Linked DNA regions of Homo sapiens. The protein of the gene in region 1 interacts with the protein of each later gene in a biochemical or structural test. Each region holds a gene or a part of one and is shown in the gene's direction. Other genes may lie near its edges. The genes, in order: SIGLEC9 and TLR4.

Region 1 (8,131 bases):
AGTGTCTGAGCCTCTCCTTCTCTCCCCAGGGGCTTTGGCTTAGGATCCAGGAGATGGCCTTAGAGTGCAGGAGCTGGTGACGGTGCAGGAGGGAATGTGCAGGCATGTGCTCTGCGCTGTTTTCTACCCCAAGTATTACTGGGCAGGATCCGGCCTAGCTCATGGTTACTGCCAACAGGATGAAGCCACTCCTGGAAGGAACACTCCAGTGGCTACAAACAACCCCAAACAATTGCAGGAGAAGAACCAGGGCCAGTTCACCTCGTTGGTCATCCCCAGACCTACAGCTGCTCCCTGAACCTCAGAGATGCCAATGAGGCGGATACAGGGACGTACTTCTTTCAGGTGGAGAGAGGTTATTACATGAAATACAGTTACGGAAATGAGAAGTTGTTCTTGCATGTGACAAGTAGAGGAAAGTCCCAGAAAAGGAGCTCTTTCTCCTCATTCGGGGTCATGGGAAGCATTCAGGGGCCCTGGGGTGGGGCTCTGGCACAGGGAGTGCCCCCACTCCCAGAAACAGGAATCAGCCCCTTTCTCTTTTCTAGTGCTGACCCAGCCACCTGAGATCCATGTCCAGAAGAGCTGCAATCAGGTGACCCTGGAAATCTGACTTGCACCGTATCATGGGCCGGTGAGAAGGGAACCCCACCAAATTTCTTCTGGATAAGAGAAGCCACCAATTTTACAGTCTCCAAGACCCCTCTTCCCGACCAGTCCTCAGTTCTCAGCCTTATCCCACAGCCATGTGACCATGGCAGCAACCTCACCTGTCAGGTGAAGTTCCTCCGAGCTGGTGTGACCATGGGGAGAACCATCCAGCTCAATGTCTCTTATGAGTGGTGGATCAGGACCCCCATGCCCAGGGCCCTGAGAACAATGGGTGTCAGGAGGGAAGGGAGGTCAGAATCAGGAATTCTTTTTTTTTTTTTTTTTTAAGACAGAGTCTCGCTATGTCACCCAGGCTTGAGTGCAGTGGCGCAATCTCTGCTCACTGCAGCCTCCGCCTTCCAGGCTCAAGCGATCCTCCTGCCTCAGCCTCCCAAGTAGCAGAGACTACAGGTGGCACCACCATGTCCAGCTAATTTTTAAATTTTGGGCAGAGATGGGTTCTCACTGTGTCACCCAGTTTGGTGTTGAACTCTTAGGCTCAAGTGATCCTCCTGCCTCGGCCTCCCAAAGTGTTGGGATTACAGGCGTGCACCACTGTGCCTGGCCAGAGTATGAGTTTTTTTGTTTTTTGTTTTGAGATGGAGTCTCGCTCTGTCACCCAGGCTGGAATGCAGTGACATGATCTCGGCTCACTGTAACCTATGCCTCCCGAGTTCAGGTGATTCTTATGCCTCGGCCTCTGGAGTAGCTGGGATTACAGGCACCTGCCACCATGCCCGGCTCACCCTTGCCTGGCTCAGCTTTGAGCTCTGTCTTGATGCCTCTCCTACTTTCTGCCCCTTGATCCTCCTCTTATGCATGGCGTCTCTCTTCCCCCATTTACCCCATTCAGGATGCAGCACTTCCTCCAAATGTCACCCTTTTCATCCACTGTACTCATGAGCCAGTGGGTGCTGTAACTTCCCTTCCTGAACAATGTCTCCCGTCATGCCCTCCTTGCTTAGTCCCCTGTCCTCCATCAGCATGACCAGGCCCTTTGCTGTCTTTTTTTTTTTTTTTTTTTTGAAGATGAAGTTTCGCTCTTGTCGTCCAGGCTGGAGTGCGGTGGCAGGATCTCGGCTCACTGCAACCTCCGCCTCCTTGGTTCAAGTGATTCTCCTGCCTCAGCCTTCTGAGTAGCTGGGATTACAGGAGCATGCCACCATGCCTGGCTAATTTTTGTACTTTTAGTAGAAACAACTTTTCACCATGTTGGTCAGGGTGGTCTCGAACTCCTTGACCTCAGGTGATCCAACCGCCTTGGCCTCCCAAAGTGCTGGGGTTACAGATCTGAGCCGCCGCACCCAGCCTCTTTGCTGTCTTGATCATTGTTCCATGCCCCTCCCCAGCCTCCCATCTTCCCTTCATGCTGTGCCCCTGATAGCACAAGCCCAGAAAGACCTTCCTGTACCCAGTACCAGCCCCACCCCTTCCTGGCCCAGAGTCCCCTGTGACTCCTCGGCACCCTCAGTCTAAGCTCCTCAGCTGGTCATGCCCCAACACCTCCATGTCCCCTTGGAAGACCCCAGATATATGTGCAGGTCTCTTCATCTGCCAGACTGTTTCAGAGCCTTTGCACATCCCTCGTCCTTCACTTGTGATGCCTGTCTGTCTTGCGTCAATATGACCCACTCCCCCTTCCAATCTCAGTTCAGCCTCCTTCCCTCCAGGGTCTGTCAGCTAGCGTGGACTCCGGGATTTGTGTACATAAGAGCATGAGCCGGGCCAGGCTTGGTGGCTCACGCTTGTAATGCCAGCACTTTGGGAGGCTGAGGTGGGCAGATCACGAGGTCAGGAGTTCAAGACCAGCCTGACCAACATGGTGAAATCCCGTCTCTACTAAAAATACAAAAATTAACCTGGCGTGGCGGCACATGCCTGTAATCCCAGCTACTCAGGAGGCTGAGGCAGGAGAATCGCTTGAACGTGGGAGGCGGAGCTTGCAGTGAGCTGAGATCACGGCACTGTACTCTAGCCTGGGTGACAGAGCAAGACTCCATCTCAAAAAAAAAAAAAAAAAGCATGAGTCAAACAGTCATGTGTCTTCTGTCTCATTCCGAATGGGAGGTAAGGGAGAAACCGACCTCTCAGCACCACTCTTCCTGCTTTCTCTGTTTTTTTCGTCCAGCCCCAAAGACCCTGAACAATGGTACACCACTGCCTGTCCTGGAGGGAGAGTCCCTGTGGTCTGTGTGGCTGACAGCACCCCACCTCCCAACCCCGCCCGGCTGAGCTGGTCCTGAGAGGGAAGAACACTGAATTCCTCCCAGCTCTCAGCACCCGGGGGCCTGGAGCTGCCTCAGATAGGGGCTGGGACGGAGGAGCATTGACCTGTTGGGCTCACCACCCACTGCGATTTCAGCACATTTCCCTGAGCCTCTGTGCAGAGTGAGTTGCAGGACAGCTGCTGAGGCAGGCAGCCTAGTCGGGTGTTTGGGCTGTCAGAGGGGTGGAGGCCTGGGAACAGAATCTCACACGCTTCTACCCTTTCCCAGGAAGCCCCTCTGGCTACAGATGTGTGAGTGAAAAGCAGGAGGGCTTCTGGCCCCTGGTTCTCACCTGATCAGGGGGCCATCCTGGGCACTGGCTTCCCCCCAACCCCCATGGCCTCACCTGGAGCTACTACTCCAGGTGAGCAGGCCTGCTCTTTTCTAGGGAAGCCGAAGGATTGTTCCCCGAGTTCCAGGTGGGGCTGAGCTGTCCTGTCCCGCCTGAGTTAGAATTGAAGTGGCCGATGCTAATCTGAGGCCCGTGTTGGCTCTGCAGGTGTGGAGGGCCCCAGGGGAGCAGTGCTGAGAGGCCTGACTGAGCCCCTCCTGCTCAAGACAGAACTCAGATGTGGACACCCAGCCCTGCAGAACAGATGCAGGACAACACTGTCAGCCATGGCTCAGCCCTTCTGACCATTGCAGTTGAGATGCTGCAACTTCCCAGGGAGCGACTGGGCAAACATGGGGGCCTGAGGTATTCACGGCAACGTGCACAGATGATAAAACTACCTAGAAAAGCATGGAGACCATTAGCGTTAAAGTGAGGCTGGGGCTGCTTCAGGAGGAAGTGGGGTGTGGCTGACAGGAAGTGGGGTAACAAAGAGGAGGTGTTGCGGCATCCCCAGTGTTCTGTTTCTCTAAGCATGTTCATATGTGTAAACCGCTGAGATTTTTTCTTGGGGGGAAGACATTTTTATCTATATGGCTTATATTTCTCCCAAAAATATTTCTAGAAAACTGACATCGGTCTAAGGAGGCTCCACCACACAGGATACTCCCAGTTCCTCCCAGCCCAGCCACACAGTTACAAAAAATCTTCTGCTGAATTCAGGTGCATGTTTCTTCTCCCATGAAATCCTGCCCATCGCGGAGGGTGCATGCCCCGGGGCTGGTGTCCTCACTCCACATCTCCTGTTCACCGGGACCCCTGGGAGCAGAGCTTGCAGAAGCAAAGCCCCAGGGCCAGCTGATCCCTCATGTTCTGGAGTAACCAGGGAAGTGTGGCTGAGCGAGACATCGGTGGTGAAGAAACCCTTCGTGGTGCAGTGAGGAAAGGAGAAATATCTTCCCTTTTGAAATCTGCCCCTTTTCTTCCGAATTTCCTCCCTTCCAAGCCCCACAGTACAACAGTCACAGCCTCAGTTTCCCAGACCTCCTGCGAGCCAGGCTCCCCTCTGTGTCCTTGGCGTGTATCAACACATAGAATCCTCACCTCCACAGCCCCATGTCCCTCTGCTCAGTCCTCCTGAGATTGAACCCCTGACCTACGGGAGAGTGACCCCATCCTGCCTGTGCCCCCCAACTGAAGCTCCTGCCGTGGACAGCTCAGACGTCAGGAGCCTCCATGTCTCCCCTCCGCACAGTGACCCCTTGGGGACAGTGTCCAGCTCTGCTGTGTTGACCTCGTTGTGCAGAAAGGGGGTGCCCACCTCGTGCTTGCTTGGGGGGGATGAGAGGCTGCCTGCTCACCCCACCTGCACCCCCATCTCTCATGGCCCCAAGTCCCACCTCTGAGCTACGCAGATATCCACAGCCTCTGACTCAGGGGTCTGGCCAGATGGGACTCATTTTCACCCTGCAGAAAATGTCACCTAAGGGGAAGGGCATTGAGAGGGAGGCAGGAGGTGGGGTGGGCCCTGCATGGGGTGGGAATCTGGGTGAGTCTGTCTCCCGCTCTGGCCTCAGGGACCCAGGAGTGAACATGGGGTGGTGGACGGTGGATCTCCCAGGGCTGACCCGGGCCTGACAGTGTCTGGGTGTAAAGTTCCTCCTCTGAGGAGGTCACTGTTCCGACCTCGCCCCTGTCTTCCTGTAGGGCCTCCTCTAAGTCTTGAGCCCGCAGTTCCTGAGAGAAGAACCCTGAGGAACAGACGTTCCCTCGCGGCCCTGGCACCTCTAACCCCAGACATGCTGCTGCTGCTGCTGCCCCTGCTCTGGGGGAGGGAGAGGGCGGAAGGACAGACAAGTAAACTGCTGACGATGCAGAGTTCCGTGACGGTGCAGGAAGGCCTGTGTGTCCATGTGCCCTGCTCCTTCTCCTACCCCTCGCATGGCTGGATTTACCCTGGCCCAGTAGTTCATGGCTACTGGTTCCGGGAAGGGGCCAATACAGACCAGGATGCTCCAGTGGCCACAAACAACCCAGCTCGGGCAGTGTGGGAGGAGACTCGGGACCGATTCCACCTCCTTGGGGACCCACATACCAAGAATTGCACCCTGAGCATCAGAGATGCCAGAAGAAGTGATGCGGGGAGATACTTCTTTCGTATGGAGAAAGGAAGTATAAAATGGAATTATAAACATCACCGGCTCTCTGTGAATGTGACAGGTAAGGCACAGGCTCCAGGAAAGGCCACAGGGAAAGGTCATGGGGGCGGCAGGGAAAGGCTGGGATGGAGCCCCTGCCCCAGGAGAGGGCTTAGGGTGAAGCGAGTTGGCTCAGGGCAGGAGCTGGACCAGAGCCTGAGCTCCCCCCAGGGCTGCACCATGGATCCTCTGACCTGATCCTGAGTCCCCCTCTCTTCACCAGCCTTGACCCACAGGCCCAACATCCTCATCCCAGGCACCCTGGAGTCCGGCTGCCCCCAGAATCTGACCTGCTCTGTGCCCTGGGCCTGTGAGCAGGGGACACCCCCTATGATCTCCTGGATAGGGACCTCCGTGTCCCCCCTGGACCCCTCCACCACCCGCTCCTCGGTGCTCACCCTCATCCCACAGCCCCAGGACCATGGCACCAGCCTCACCTGTCAGGTGACCTTCCCTGGGGCCAGCGTGACCACGAACAAGACCGTCCATCTCAACGTGTCCTGTGAGTGCTGGGCCGGGACGCCTGGGTCCCTGATGGGGTGAGCGTCAAGCCTGGACACTGGGTGCTGGGTCCCGGAATCTGGGCTGGTGGTGGGGTCAGGAGGACACTGGCTCTGCCTTCCCTGTTTATGCGGCTCCTGGGGACAGACAGGGCCAGTGTCCCCAGCCCTCACAGTGATGCGGGTCTCCATGTCTTTCTGTCCCAGACCCGCCTCAGAACTTGACCATGACTGTCTTCCAAGGAGACGGCACAGGTAGGATGGAGCTCCCTCCCTGGGGCTGGAGGAGCAGGGCCTTCAGGTCAGGATGGGGCTGGCTTATTCCTCAACCTGGACTCACTTTGGCAAACAGGGATGTCCTTGTGGGTGAACTCAGGGCCCCTCTGTATCCTTAGGCCCCAAGGCCACTTGTTCCCATCCTCCCATCACCTCCCTTGGACTCCCCCACACACCCCCCCCTCAGCCTCAAACAAGAAGAGGGTGGCATTCACACAGCAGGACCAGGCTTTGAGGCTCCTTCTCATGTATCTCCTGAATACATCTCCACCCTTATCTGTTTATTTCTGATAGTTCTGATCTAAGTACTTCTGGACAGGTGATAAATGTCCATGGGCAAAAATTCAAATTGCAGAGCAAAGGCTCTCCTCCGATGCCTGCCCCCCTCCCCAGAACCAACCACTGTCCATCCAGGCTGCCCTGAGTCTCGGTTTGTACACCTGGAGGATCTCAGAGGTGGTTTGACGTCCGTAGTGAGACTGTCCGCACCCTCCTCTAGGGCTGTGTGTGAGTCCACTGCATGGATGGACTCTGATTTTGTGGCATCTCCTAATGGAAGATCACGGCACTAATTTCATCCTACGGCAGGATAGAACAATCTTGTATCTACTTCCACAGGAATATCTAAGCCTGTGGGTTAAGTTCCTAAAAGCAAAATGTAGCTACATTATATGTTCTTTCTTATTTTGAAAGATAAGCCCAAACTGTTCTCGATGAAGCGGGGAGAAGTTTACATTCCCAGCAGTGAGTGGTGAAAGTGTGTGTTTCCAGAACTTCAGTCTATGTCTGTGTGTCAGTTGCTGTCATCAGTCTCTTTCTGTATCCTTCCTTTTTCTCCAGATCTATGTATCTCTCTGACCCTCTGTCTCTTTTTCTACAGTATCCACAGTCTTGGGAAATGGCTCATCTCTGTCACTCCCAGAGGGCCAGTCTCTGCGCCTGGTCTGTGCAGTTGATGCAGTTGACAGCAATCCCCCTGCCAGGCTGAGCCTGAGCTGGAGAGGCCTGACCCTGTGCCCCTCACAGCCCTCAAACCCGGGGGTGCTGGAGCTGCCTTGGGTGCACCTGAGGGATGCAGCTGAATTCACCTGCAGAGCTCAGAACCCTCTCGGCTCTCAGCAGGTCTACCTGAACGTCTCCCTGCAGAGTGAGTGCACCAGTATGCTGGGGAGGGGCTGGAGAGGAGAACACACCTCCTCCACCCTTAGTAACTGCTGAGCGTGGACCTTCAGAGAGGAGCTCCGCTCTGGTCTGTGCTCAGCTGTGAGGTCTGGAACTTCCCTGGGACCCACAGCACCACTGTCCTCTTCCTGCCAGGGAAGGGTTGTGGGGTGGGGAGAGGGCAGGAGTGGATCTCAGAGGGGACAGGATGGGGCCGGACAGGTGTGTTTAGGGAGACAAGCGCCTTTCTTTGCAGGGCTGAACTGGAGTCACACAACTGAGATACTTGCTTTGAGCATCAAATTAAAAAAAAGAAAAAGCCCAGCAAGTCAGCAATCAAATGAAATCATATTGCAATGCAATAATCTTTTAAAAAAAGTAAAAATTGAATGCAAAACAAATTCATTAATGGATAAAATATTAAAATTGTGAAAAAAAACCCCAAAAGGAATGGCTGGCACTTGCACGCCTCACTGGCCTCAGGAAGAGTCTCTCCATGTCCTGCTCTCTCTCATTCCTGTTCTTTGTGTCTGGAAAGGGGAAGTGGAAATAGAAGTCTAGGACCCTACAGGAAGTGGGAGGAGAAGAGACCCAATTCTCTATGATATATCACAAAAATAACTCCCATCTGTCAACAGGCAAAGCCACATCAGGAGTGACTCAGGGGGTGGTCGGGGGAGCTGGAGCCACAGCCCTGGTCTTCCTGTCCTTCTGCGTCATCTTCGTTGTGTAAGCATGGACCCTAGA
Region 2 (4,120 bases), on another chromosome or scaffold:
GTACTTTGTACCTATTAGGTACTTTCTCATCCCTTAACCCCTTCCCACCTTTCTGAGTCCTCAATGTCTGTTATTTCATTCTCCATGTCCATGTCTACAAATTATTTAGTTTCCACTCATAAGTGAGAGCATGGATGGAACTGGAGAAGAGTATTTTCTATCCCAAGATCGGTTCCTTGATCTTGTGTCTCCAAATCACTTGCTCTCTCTCTTACATCTTTTCTATCTTCTTCTAGCCTCTTTTTGCAAACTTCATTTTGACAAAGAATTCCAGGCAGTCTACAGCTGATTTTATTTCAATACAACGATTAAAATGGAAACCATATATGAAGATGACAAAGTTGAGCAGGTCCCAAACTCTCACTTTTAAACAAATGCTTGGCTTAAGAATCACTTAATGACTTTCATTCTGCTATCTATGTGTCTGTGTATCTAGGTACTAATTATCTATCTTTATGATCTTTATTGCTAGAAATTCTGGTTCAATATCAGAGGTTAGTCCTAAGGAATTTATATTTTAAAATATTCTCCCAGTTTTCGTGCACAGACAGATTTGGGAATTACTGTTATAATGGAAAATGGAGAATAACCACCCACATTTAATATGGTTATTGGTTTTGTTCTTGAGATTTATTGCTAAGATTCATGATAGCCCAGGCAAGGTCAGATAATGTATTTTTATTTTACACTGTATAGTTGATTCTTCTCAATCCCACTAGATCAGACTCTTTGGGATACTAGGATTGGCCTATTTGATGGTGAGCTCACTACATCCATTTAGATGTTGTGTCCATGCAATCATTTTAGTTCTCCTAGTTTCTACCTATCACGTTGTCATTTTCCCTTCTTTATCATCCTGGGTAGCTGAGACCCCACATAAATATATACCAGAAAAATGTTGTGGTCTTTTCTAAACTCTCTGAGGCATCTGTTGTCAATGTGATGTTGTTTTTTGTTTCCAGTCCAAAATATATCAAAGTAAAATTTAACTCCACTTTTGCTAAGTATTCATCTTGCCTTGAGTACTAAGATTCCAAAAATGACTTTCCCCTCTGAAAAACACAGGATTTCCTTGCGAAAACTTGCTGGGCCACTGCCAATCTTCCCAGAAACTCCTTTTTCCTTATCGTTGAGGGGAATTGGGGAAGTGATCACTGACGGTTGAAATTCAGTAGTTTTGGTCTTTAAGCTGAGACCCTGAGTCTTCTGAGGAGTCTACTGCTCCCCAGTGGGAAACACCTGCTGTCAAAATTTTCCTGCTTGCAAAGAGCACTTTTGAAATTAATGGCAGGGGATGAATATCTGGCTAGTGCTGTGCTCAGCTGAGTTATTAATAGGGCCTTCTGAGTCCTCTCTACACATCATCTTTGGCTGAATTAGCTGTGGTTTCAGCACCTGAGAGTCTAGCACCACTAAAGGCAGGGAATACCTTTGCCAGTTTCTGGCATATTAACAGCTGAGATCAGATAAGTGAACAGCGATAGAGGTAGTGAGGTTTAGGATTCAGGTCTGCCACCGGGAGCGCACCTCTGGGCTCAGGTCTCTCATTTGTAAAATGGGACATTTAGGTCAGATCAGCATTTTCAAAAGTGTGACATGTTAGTAAATAAGATGATTTTATGTGGTTGACAGATGAATGTATTACCTTTAGTGGTTATATGTTTATTTTCATGGTTACTTTTATTTATAATAAATTTTGTGACTAGCTAAGAATCAATTATCTCTTTAAAATATATTTAAGTTTAAAATGTGGGCCAACTTAGGAAAAAAACGGGATGAAATGAATTATATAAAAGGTATGCAGATTTGGAAAAATTTTGAAGGTGTCACAAGAAAGATTGGCAGTCAGAAAGGAATGAACCAAACGGCTGCTGAGGGTCAGGCCAGCTCTCTGACATTCTAGCATGTTCACATCTCCAGGGCTGTTTCCTTACCTATAAATTGTGGCAATTGGAGTAAATGTCCATTCCAGGAATTCTATTCTATGATTAGAGGTGTAACTTCATCATCCAGATTTTCCAGCATCCTTAACATGTGGTTTTAGCGTTCTAAACCTGATGATGCTATATCAAAACGGGAGACTCATTCGTCAAGTCATGATGTATCCATGTATTTATAATATTTCCCATGTTCCCTCATTTCTGAAAAGGATTAAGCTATCAACCCCATTGAGTTATAGGTGAAAGGCTGTGGAAACAAGACATTGATAGTGAAATGGCTCCACCACTAACAGGCTGTTGAACAAAGGCAAATCTCTTGATCTCTTTGCTCTTTGGTCTCTGTTTATCTATGAGATAACGTTATTTTTACGCTGTCTTCTGTGAAAGTTTTGAGAATGAAATGAGACAGAGCCTCCAATAAAATTTAGGGAAGTGCTACATAAATGCAAGGAGTTATTATGATAACAGATTGAAAACTCCTCCAAGGAGGAGTTTCTCTTTTGCCCCATGTTATAAACTCAAGAATATCTTCCATTTTGCCTACATATTCCAAAAGCTTTTAAATTAAGCTATATGTCATTCTTACAGGAGTCTCCTCTATTTCAGCAATGTGTATACTTGGTCAGTTTTAATTATCTTAAAGGAGAAGAATACAGTTTCTCTAAACTCAAGCACTTTTGTGGACTAATCCTTGCAATTATTCTTTCTTCTTTCCCATACTTGACATTTAAAGTGATATCTCCCAGGCTCCTACACTGTTAGTCACAGAGGTACCATTCGACCCCTTGTGCCTCTTACCATATGTGAATGCTTGTCAGTTGAGAGTAAACTTTCTTCATAAATTTCACAGTTGTGGATTGATAAAAACAGAGAACTCTGGTTCCTCATTCCTTCCTGCTTTCTTTCTTGAAATGCCATTCATGATGGTCCCTTATATCACTATAGGGCTGCTATCATCCTTCATCCTTATGCCACTGCAAATAGCAACCAACAGTGTCCTTAGTGCCAGCACTCCCAGGCATGCCCCTTTCCAAGCAGCAGGGTCAAGCCGCTCCCTTCCTGAGCTGTGGCATCTGTCTCTAAATCATGCTTCCTCCTTGCCTGCTGCAGGCCCTTGTCTCTGCCCTTTACTTTTTCTGGCTCTTGCCACGGTTTTGAATAAAACTCTTCCAAATATCTGAAGCTCAATTCTGTTGCCATTCTAAGCTCTCTAAATGTCACCACAATCTTCCTTCCTTTGCATTTTCTTATTGTGCACTAAGTTAGTTCTTGCTTAGTAAGTCTTGTCTTTCTCTCTGCTTTGACCTGTCAGTATTCCAACTTCCTTATTTTTTGATGTTCATTTTCTCCTTGCTCTCTTTCTTCCTTTCTTGTCTGTGAACTCCATTAACCGCTTCTGCATGTGACCATTAATGTGCCTGTCTTTCTTCTCATGTATTAGAGAGAACAAAAGCTTTGGGAATCAGACAGATCTGTGTTCTGATCCTGTCTTATGGTATCTGTCTTGTTTGTCTCGGCTTAAAATGGGGATAATATCTACCTCTCAGTTTTGTTGGCAGTTCAGTACACGGAAATAAAGTTCTCACTTTCTTTTTTCTCCTTGAGAGTGTTCTTTATTTTACTCATCTGGCCATCTAATATTTATGAAGAAGCTACTCTGTGGTTGAAAAGGCACATGAAGCTGCAGAAGTAAATGACCAAGAAGTGCCCTCAAAGTTACGGAGTTCAGATTCATTTTGGCAAGAGAGGCATGTCAATACACACACACACACACACACACACACACACACACACACACACACAATGTTATGCCAAAATGCAGGGTGGTGGGGAGTGGAGGGTTGTTCTTCCTAGAAGCAATCAGAGAAGGCTTTACAGAGGAGGGCCCATTTGAGCTGGAAATTGTAAAAGAACAGCTCTGCAGATGGATCTTTAAATTCTTAACCTAAAAGAAGAGCAAAAATGTAAATGATAAATCTGGGAAGTAATAAGTAGAAGACCATGTATAGCAGAGTTGAGGAAAGAAACAATATAGTATAAATACTGAATTACATGAAAGCTAATAGTTAATTGGCATCAGTTGACCCTGACAAAGACATTTATCTGGACTATGTCTCAATTTGCTTATCTGTCAGTTAAGGATGATATATTAAATGAGTGCTTATACAAACAAAGTGCTT

Evidence for each region.
Region 2: the proteins of SIGLEC9 (region 1) and TLR4 form a complex in vitro, tested with the Homo sapiens proteins (one study listed by IntAct).

Annotation. Positions count from the first base shown.
Region 1 is NC_000019.10:51,119,927-51,128,057, forward strand, and holds the start of SIGLEC9 (sialic acid-binding Ig-like lectin 9 isoform 2 precursor), read left to right. Parts: upstream 1-4,979; 5' UTR 4,980-5,048; coding exon 5,049-5,469; intron 5,470-5,670; coding exon 5,671-5,949; intron 5,950-6,154; coding exon 6,155-6,202; intron 6,203-7,103; coding exon 7,104-7,370; intron 7,371-8,022; coding exon 8,023-8,113; intron 8,114-8,131. UniProt on the Homo sapiens protein: Putative adhesion molecule that mediates sialic-acid dependent binding to cells. Preferentially binds to alpha-2,3- or alpha-2,6-linked sialic acid. The sialic acid recognition site may be masked by cis interactions with sialic acids on the same cell surface.
Region 2 is NC_000009.12:117,721,192-117,725,311, forward strand, and holds the end of TLR4 (toll-like receptor 4 isoform A precursor), read left to right. Parts: 3' UTR 1-3,544; downstream 3,545-4,120.